Linked DNA regions of Homo sapiens: region 2 is linked to region 1. A link means that fine-mapping ties the variant in region 1 to the expression of a gene that starts in the linked region. Tissue or cell type: pituitary. Region 1 holds a variant in brackets; the other region holds the start of a gene. All regions are shown on one strand. Distances are from middle to middle.

Region 1 (4,397 bases):
GGAACATGTTAGTGTGTTTGAGAAATTGGAAAGGAGGTCAGTAGAGCTGTAACTGAGTGAGCAAAGGGGAGGGTAGAGAGAAATTAGGTTAGAGAGTGAGTAGCAGTAAAATTGTGTAGGACTGCAGCCTGTGAAAATGAACTGAACTTATTCTAAATATAAAGGGAAGCCACTAGAGGGTTTTGAGCAGGGGAGGGACAAGATATACTTAGAAGGACCACTCTGACTGCTTTGTGAGAGGGACGAGAGTAGAATTAGGGAGACCAGTTAATAAACTATTATATAGGGCAGGTAGAAGATAATACTTCCTAGGCCTCCAGGTAGGAAGTGATAGTTGTGGTAGTACAATGTTAACGATGCAACAACTAGAAAAAGTCAGAGTAATTATTTAAAAAGACACCACAGAGCTGTCATGAGGAAGACACCACAGAGCTGTCATGAGGATTAGATGAACTGGAATTCCAAGGGGTGGCCTCTGAGGTAGCTGATACTGTTTTCTTTCCTGAGGGCATCTGCTAATTTTGGCATAAACTAAGGATCAGGCTTGGCATGTGGTGAGGGGCTCTACTGGAGGAAAGAGAAATGAGAGCTGCTGCGACAAACTGGAAACTTAAGGAGCCCCTGCATGTGGCCAGTTTTTCTCATTGGGTATCTGCTGAATTTTGGGCCAGCACATTGGAACTTCAAAGCTAGACTGAGAGCTTTTAAAAGGCAGAATAAAATCTCCTATAATCTTGTGGTTTTAGGAGATAAGGTTCCACTAGAAGTAGGTAGTATACCCCAAATACATGGCTGATCTCCTCTTAAAGATATTTTAAAACTATAAGGGGTGAGAGGTAATAAAACTAAGCCCCAGACCTCTCAAGGGTAGGACAATCTCCTGCAGTGTTTCAGGGCTAAGGAGCTAGAAATTAGGTTCCCAACCAAGAGCCCAAGAGGGTCCGTGTCCAAAAAACAAGCATAAACCATAGGCACAATCCAGATGTGGTCTAACTCAATCCAGAATTAGATTGAGGTGATCAGGCCCTATCCTATTTAGTCTAGCAGAGGAAAGGAAGAATTCTTTCTCATGGAAGATACCAGTTGGAGCCTCAATAGTTCTTTTAATATAAAACGTTTGGCATACTACAAAAATTATTAGACATAACAGAGTCAAAACAGTGTGATCAGTAATCAAGAGAAAATACAGGCAATAGAAAGAGACCCATATATTATCCAAATAATGGAACAAACAAACAGATTTTTTAAAAATCATAATTAAAATGTTAAAATGTAAAAAAGATGAACAAAATATAAGAAAAGGTAGATAGTACCCACAGAAATATCTATATAAAAAACTAAATGGACATCTTATAACTAAAAAATACAATATTAGGAATAACTCATTGCATGGGTTTAAGGACAGACAAGAGCCAATAGAAAGGATTAATAAACTTGATGAAAAAATAGAAAACATCCAAAATAAAGTACAGTGAGAAAATATGAAAAAATATATTAGAGCATTAGAGATTAAGTAGACACAGTCAATAGGTCCAAAATATGAGTGGCTGCAATCCCACAGGGAGAAGACAGATAGAATGAAGAAAAAGCAATATATGAAAAGGTAACAGCGGAGACTTAATCTCTAACTAATGAAAGACATCAACCCACAGATTCAGGATGCTTATGGATTCAGCAATCCATAGCAGGAAAAATACAAAGAAAACGATACCAAAACACATAATTGTCAAACTGCTGAAAATACAAAAGATGAAATACAGATGAAATAAAAGACAGGGAGGAAATACAAAGATATATTTTAAAAAGCAGTCAGAGAGAAAAACAGCATTACCGGAGCAACAATAAGAGTGATAGCAGGCTCTTTAATAAAACT[G/T]TGTAAGCAAGAAGAAGTAGAATAGTATCCTTAAAGGGCTAAAAGAAACAGACTACCAAAGATAGAATTATACACCCAGTGAAAATATCCTTCAGAAATAAAGGTAAAATAATGAGATTTTCAAATAATCAAAGTTGAGAGAATCTGTCACCAGCAGACCTAACTATGGAAAATGAAAAGGAAGTTCTTCAGGCTGAAGGACATTCCAAATGGAAACATGAAACTACAGGAAGGATGAAGAACACGAGAAAGGGTAAACATGTGAGTTGATACAAAAGGATACTGATTATTTAAAACAATAATAAAAATGGCTTGTGCCGTTTATAATATATGTATTAATAAGTTATGTGACAGTAATAGCACAGAGGATGAAAGTGGAGAGTAAATGGAGCCAAACTTTGTTAAGAATTTTGCATTATTTGGGAGTAGTTAGAGCACTTATTTAAGGTAGATTTTAATAAGTCCAATATGCATATTTGCATACGGCAATTAATTAAAGAATTATCAGGGATAAGAATGCATTACTAAAAAGCTAAGGGGAGAGAAGTAGAATAATAAAACATACTTGATTAATCCAAAAGAAGGCAAGAAAGGAGGAATAAAGAAATAAGGAAGAACTTGGACAAATAGAAAACAAAAAAGCAAAATGCAAAATGTTGACTTAAACCCAAATAAATAATTTTATTAAAGAAGGGTGGATTAAGTAAAACAGTCAGTAGGAATAAATGAACAAACCAGACCAAAAAAAACCCCCAGAACTCAATTATATTTGTTTATAAGAGGGCCCTGAGATACAAAGACACTCAAAATATAAAAACACAGGAAGAGAAAAGCAAACAGATGAAAATAATGTACTCTATAAACACTAACCAAAAGAAAACTAATAACATGAATAACCAATTAACCAACCAACCTAACTGATACATATACCTAATAAATATAGAATACGCAGAGACAATTTCATCATAGATCCATCAGACATTGGGTAGAGAACAGGACAGTATGAATAACTTTATGCCAATTAAATATGAAAATTGAGATAAAATGTCACTCAAGACCAGCCTGGGCAACACTGTGAGACCCCATCTCTACAAAAACAAATTAGTTGAGCATGGTGTGTGCCTGTAGCCCTAGCTACTCAAGAGGATCGCTTGAGCCCAGGTCGAGGTTGCAGTGAGCTATATCACACCACTGCACTTCAGCCTGGATTACAGGCTCTATCTCTTATCTCTAATGCTCTAAATTTTTTTTGTATTTTCTCACTGTACTTTATTTTGGATATTTTCTATTTTTTCATCAAGTTTATTACTCCTTTCTGTTGGCTCTTGTCTGCCCTTAAACCCATGCAATGAGTTATTCCTAATACTGTATTTTTTAGGTATAAGATGTCCATTTAATTTTTTATATAGATATTTCTGTGGGTACTATTTTTTCTTACACTTTGTTCATCTTTTTTACATTTTAACATTTTAATTATGATTTTTAAAAAATCTGTTTGTTTGTTCCATTATTTACATAATATATGAGTCTCTCTCTTAAAACACAAAACAAAGCAAAAATACCACTGACACAAGAAAAAAACAGAATATGAAGAGCCTCATACATAATAAAAAATTGCAATTGCAATTAAAAATCTTTCCACAAAGAAAATCCCAGGCCTAAACTGGCTTCACTGATGAATTCTAGCAAATATTTAAAGAAGAAATAATAACAAATCTTGCAAAGCCTCTTTTGAAAAATAGAAGAGGGAACACTTCCCATTTCATTTTATAAGGCCAGCATAACCCTCATACCAAAACATGACAAAGATAGTTACAAGAAAAAAAAACTATAGACTAATATCCCTCATGAACATACATCCAAAATCTTTAACAAAGTATTTGTAAATTAAATCTAGGTCTCTCTCTATATGTATATCAGATATACAATCCTATATATATCATATCATAACATGCAGGATAATATATCATAACTAAGTGGGATTTATTTCAGAAATACAAAGGTTAACAATGGAAAATACAATCCGCTGAACACATACATTCACTAAATGAAAGAGAAAACCTATATATCATCTCAACAGATGAAGAAAAAGCATTTGACAAAATTCAACATCCATTCATGATAAAAATTATCAATAAACTAGGAATAAAAGAGAATTTCCTTAGTCTAGATAAACGCATCTATAAAAAACCTATAATCAACAGCATTCTTAATGGTGAAATATTGAACACTTCTTATTGAATTATGGGATAAAACAAAATAACTACTATCACCACTTCTATTCGACATTGTATTGGAGGTCAATGCAATAAGGAAAGGAAAAGAAATAAAATCTATAAATACAGACTGTAAGGGAAGAAGCATTACTTGTACGTGACATGATTGTTTACATAAATATTCCTCCTTACAAGTCTACAAAATCTATTAAAATAAAAAAATGAATTTGGAAAGGTCACTAGATACAAATCTAATATTTAAAAATCTAATGTATTTCTCTAAATAGCAACAATTTGAAAATTATTTA
Region 2 (4,380 bases), 64 kb before region 1:
ACAACCTGAGAGTTTGTTTAAAAACTAAGAAATGAGGCTTTCTTTTTAATAGGAACCAGAATTTTTCATAAAGCTTCAAATACAGGTTCTCAGCATGTAGAGCGAGATGAAAAGGTGCATGGGTGCTATTATGGTGCTATTTATGACTGAGAAAGGGGAGGGATAAGCATGATTTAGGAAGGTGGTCCTTTCCTCTGCCAGGCACTGGACGTGGGTACCCCATATACACAGCCAGTGAGCAGTGGGCCAGACTGTCTTCACCAGCAGAACTGCTTGTTATGGTACTTTGAACGTGGCTGATTGAGCATAATTCTAACCTCTTCTCCCACCTGGTGGTACCAGGAGATTGTCTTCATTTTAAATTTTATTTATTTATTTATTTATTTTTTTGAGTCAGGGTCTCACTCTGTTGCCCAGGCTGGAGTGCAGTGGCACAAGCACGGCTTGCTGCAGACCTCCTGGGCTCATAAGATCCTCCCACCTCAGCCTTCCAAGTAGCTGGGACTACAGGTTCACATCACCACGCCCAGCTAATTAAATTTTTTTTTTTTTTAATAGACAGGGTCTCGCTGTGTTGGCCAGGCTGGTCTTGAACGCCTGGCCTCAGGCGATCCTCCCATAGTGCAGGGATTATAGGCATGAGCCATTGCACCTGGTCAATAGTCTTTTTTTTGAGATGGAGTCTCACACTGTTGCCTGGGCTGGAGTACAGTGGCGTGATCTTGGCTCACTGCCACCTCCACCTCGCAGGTTCAAGTGATTCTGTTTGCCTCACCTTCCCAAGTAGCTGGGATTACAGGTGCCTGCCACCACGCCCATCTAATTGTTTTGTATTTTTAGTAGAGATGGGGTTTCACTATGTTGGCTAGGCTGGCCGTGATCTGCTCATCTCAGCGTCCCAAAGTGCTGGGATTACAGGCGTGAGCCACCACGTCTGGCCCGTTTTTTTTCAAACATTCCCCAAACTGAGGGTCTGACACGCCCGTTGTTGACATCATGGTCCCCCACAATGGCTGGGTGTGTGGGTGGTGTGAAAAAGCCTCCCAGTAATTAAGTTCCTGCCCCTATGTTTAAGATCACTTTGGCTGATCACTTGTCAAGTGCTGGCCACATAATGTAAGGTTTCTGAAAAAAGAGATCCCAGATGGCTCTCCAGAGCTTGCAAAGCTCGAGCAGCCCCGCCACGCTGGCTGTGGCAGACAGGATAGGGCTGAAGCTGGATTTACAGGAGGGCAACCTGTGCCCAGTGTTTACTGACCCGTCCCCGGAGGCTTCTCCCTCATGGGGAGGAAAGCTGGTCACATTCCTCGTTCCTTTCTTAATGTGACCTAACAATAGGCACAGCTATGTGTAACTTCCCTTCAGTAACTTCCTTCAGTCCAGGGAACTTCCCTTCAGTCCAGGGGATCTGGGCAGTTCTTAGCAGTCTGGAGCAGCTGGGCTGAAGCCTGACTTCACCCTTCCTTTGTAGAAATCTGCTCTTTTCCCCCGAAAAACATTTCCGAGGATTGTGGTGCCTGGACTAGCATTTAGCATGGTACCTGGACCGTGGAAGGTGCTCAGAAATGCCACTCCTCCTTCTTGAGTAACACATTTGTGTAGTTTTCAAACAGTCTTGGTGACCTTGGGGCAGCTCGGGGGGTGAGCAGCAGGAGTTTGGTAACCTGCCACCATATAGGTGTCTGTGATCACATTGGTCCCTAACCAGCATGAATGGCAGCCGAGGCAGGGGTTGTGTGCTCTTTGCTAAGTGGGAAAACCAGGTCTCAGAGCAGTTGTGATCACCCAGAAAATGTCACCTGGCTGGTGAGTGGAGGGGCTGGGGGTTCCAAAGTTCTCATCTGTGTCTGCTGTGGATGTGGCCAGGGTCTTCAAGTTTTAGGGGATCAACTGAAGTGTGTTCTGTGGAACACTAGTCCTGTGAAATGCCCTGTTCAACAAGGTTTGGTGATTTTCTGGTGGCTCAGACCCCAAATTTAGGAGTATCCTTAATTGTCTCACCAGCAGGTATTTATTGGGTGTCTACCATATGCCAGCCATACCCAAACCCCTGTCCCCCAGAGCAGTTATTCAGTGGGGGAAGCACCAAATATAAGCTACAGAGTGTGGTAGTTCATAGATGGAGACCAGGGGTGGAAGTGAGCAGGGGAGTGGCAGTGCTGGGAGGTGGTGTCTTTAAAATAGGGTGGGTGGGAAATTAAGCATGGACTTGAAGGTGAAGAGGAAAGGAAATAGGCCGCTATGTAGCGCAGAGGCCCCGAGGCAGGAGTGCAAATGAAACAAGTTGGTGGGCGTGGCTGAAGTGGCTTACATAAGGGGCGGAAGACATTGAGGTTGGGTGGGCTAGGTGGTGGAGAACCATGTAGGCCATCAAGTTTGGGCTTTGCTCTTGAAGAATTTGGAGGGCTATGGGTGCAGGTGTGGCGTGAGTGTGATCAGACTCTGGCTTTGCAGCCTCTGGCTCAGCTGGTGGAGACAGCAGGAGAAACGGCCAGAGGCAGGAAGCAGCTGGAGGAGTCTGGTTTTTTTTGTTTGTTTTAAGCTAACGGTCTTACTGGACCAGAGGGGTCTTGGAAAGGAACTGAGACCCTTAGTGTGAGGTGCTGCTCTGTGCCACAGCTGGCGTAGACACAGGGCACTGGCCCGATGGTGACAAAATGCCCCTGGCCATTGTCACTGTCTTATAGATGAAGAAACTGAAGCACAGAGGCATAGCACTTTGCCCCACGGTCCCTGGTCTTTAAGACAGAGCTGGACTGGAGTCTGAGGGGCTGGGCTCCCTGCCCTTGCAGGTCTGTCCTCTGCCTCCTGGACAGAGGTGGGCTGGGCCTGGGACTCATGACCCTGCAGCATCTGACCGGCTGACCCAGTGTCCTAGAAAGAACCATTCTTGTCCCAGGTGCATGTAATTTATTAATGGAGCTTTGACAGTCACAAGTTCCAGCAAGTCAGGGGTGGGGGCTGCAGGGTGGCCTCTTGCCCTGTAACCACAGTCATCAAATATGCCTCGCCATCTTTGAGGGGCTTTCCTGAGATGACAGATTCCTTTCTGGCACTGTGTAGCCAACTGGAGTCACAGACCTCAGCCTGGGCCAAATGAGCATTTTAGGGAGAAGGACAATCCCTTATAGCTTAGCCCTAGGGGAGCTCTGGGCAGGGTTTTACACATTCTTTCTGAAAGTAAGGTCATTTGGGGACAGGGCTGAGAGCAGTTTCTTGGCTACACAGATGGGTCTGTCAGGGTTGAAGCCACATGGGTGCCTGCTCATGTGCCATGTTGAAGGAGTCCCTGTCCGCCTCTCAGCAGCCCGCATGGGCTTTACTGGTTGGCCTTACACTCAAACAGGAAATCCCTGGGTCTCAGGTGGAGAGTGCCGTGCCGTCCTGCCTGCTCCCCAGGGCCCTCACAGGACACAGCAGGTGCAGGACACAGGCCCGTGCTGCTGCAGCTGCTGCTGGAGCTGCTCCTTCTCCATCATCAGCGCCTTCATCTTCTCTTCCAGCTTGCCCAGCTCCACCAGCCACCTCTGAGGGGACATGGGAAAAGCATGTGGCCAAGCCCGCCTGGTCTCGGGCCTGTCCGTCCTCCACCTGGGGCCAAACTGAGGGAGGAAGGCAAAGCCCAGGAGCCTGAGAGCTTTCTCAGCTAGGGGAAAAGTCAGGCCCCTCGGCCTGCTGCCACCTTCAACCGTGTCAGCCTGAGGGAAGCTGCCGGCTGCCAGCCATGGAAGGGAGCCTCCTCCGTGCTGGGCAGGCCATGTGCCTCCTCACTGTTGGTCCCTTGTCCTCCATTCTCTGTTTCCCTCTTGAAAAAGCTCTTCCTTGGGACTGTGTCTTGCCCCCTCTGCCGCTTTAGGGCCTCCCCTAAAATGCAGTGTATAGTCTTTGGGGTTTTCTGGTGACATCTCAACATTCCAGTCTCTCTGCTCCCTCACTCAAGATCGAGTGTGTTAACTGCCCAAGTAGAGGGTGAGGGGTTTCAGGCACCCCTGAAGGGAGGATACTGCATAGGATTTTTTTTTTTTTGAGATGGAGTCTCGGTCTGTCGCCCAGGCTGGAGTGCAGTGGCGCGATCTCGGCTCACTGCAACCTCCGCTTCCCAGATTCGATCGATTCTCCTGCCTCACCCTCTCGAGTATTTGGAACTACAGGCGCCCGCCACCATGCCCAGCTAATTTTTGTATTTTTAGTAGAGACGAGGGTTCACCATGTTGGCCAGGCTGGTCTCGAACTCCTGACCTTGTGATCTGTTCGCCTCATCCTCCCAAAGTGCTGGGATTACAGGCGTGAGCCACTGCGCCTGGCCACTGCATAGATTTTTAAAAGGAGAGAGCTTGGGCCTCTTCCTTCCCACCAGCCACCTACCCGCGGAGTATGGGA

Which allele goes with the higher level. Positions count from the first base shown, and alleles are read on the strand shown. Sizes are in standard deviations (SD) of each study's normalised expression.
As copies of T replace G in region 1, the expression in pituitary of the gene that starts at base 1,889 in region 2 goes down (small effect, 0.31 SD a copy in GTEx).

Evidence for each region. PIP is the estimated chance that this variant, and not a neighbour inherited with it, causes the effect.
Region 2: SLFNL1-AS1 starts here. The variant in region 1 is the best candidate, but not a certain one, in a credible set for the expression of SLFNL1-AS1 in pituitary (GTEx, PIP 0.78).

Annotation. Positions count from the first base shown.
Region 1 is chr1:41,076,734-41,081,130 of GRCh38, forward strand. All of the region lies in intron 8 of SCMH1 (Scm polycomb group protein homolog 1), which reads right to left. Among named protein-coding and RNA genes, the nearest start is that of SLFNL1, 57 kb to the left of the region's middle. The variant G/T (reference allele first, on the strand shown) is at 1,874.
Region 2 is chr1:41,012,702-41,017,081 of GRCh38, forward strand. SLFNL1-AS1 (SLFNL1 antisense RNA 1) reads left to right here and starts at 1,889. Exons shown (of 4, transcript NR_037868.1): 1 at 1,889-4,380. SLFNL1 (schlafen like 1) reads right to left here. Exons shown (of 6, transcript NM_144990.4): 6 at 2,896-3,527. The coding sequence ends at 3,405.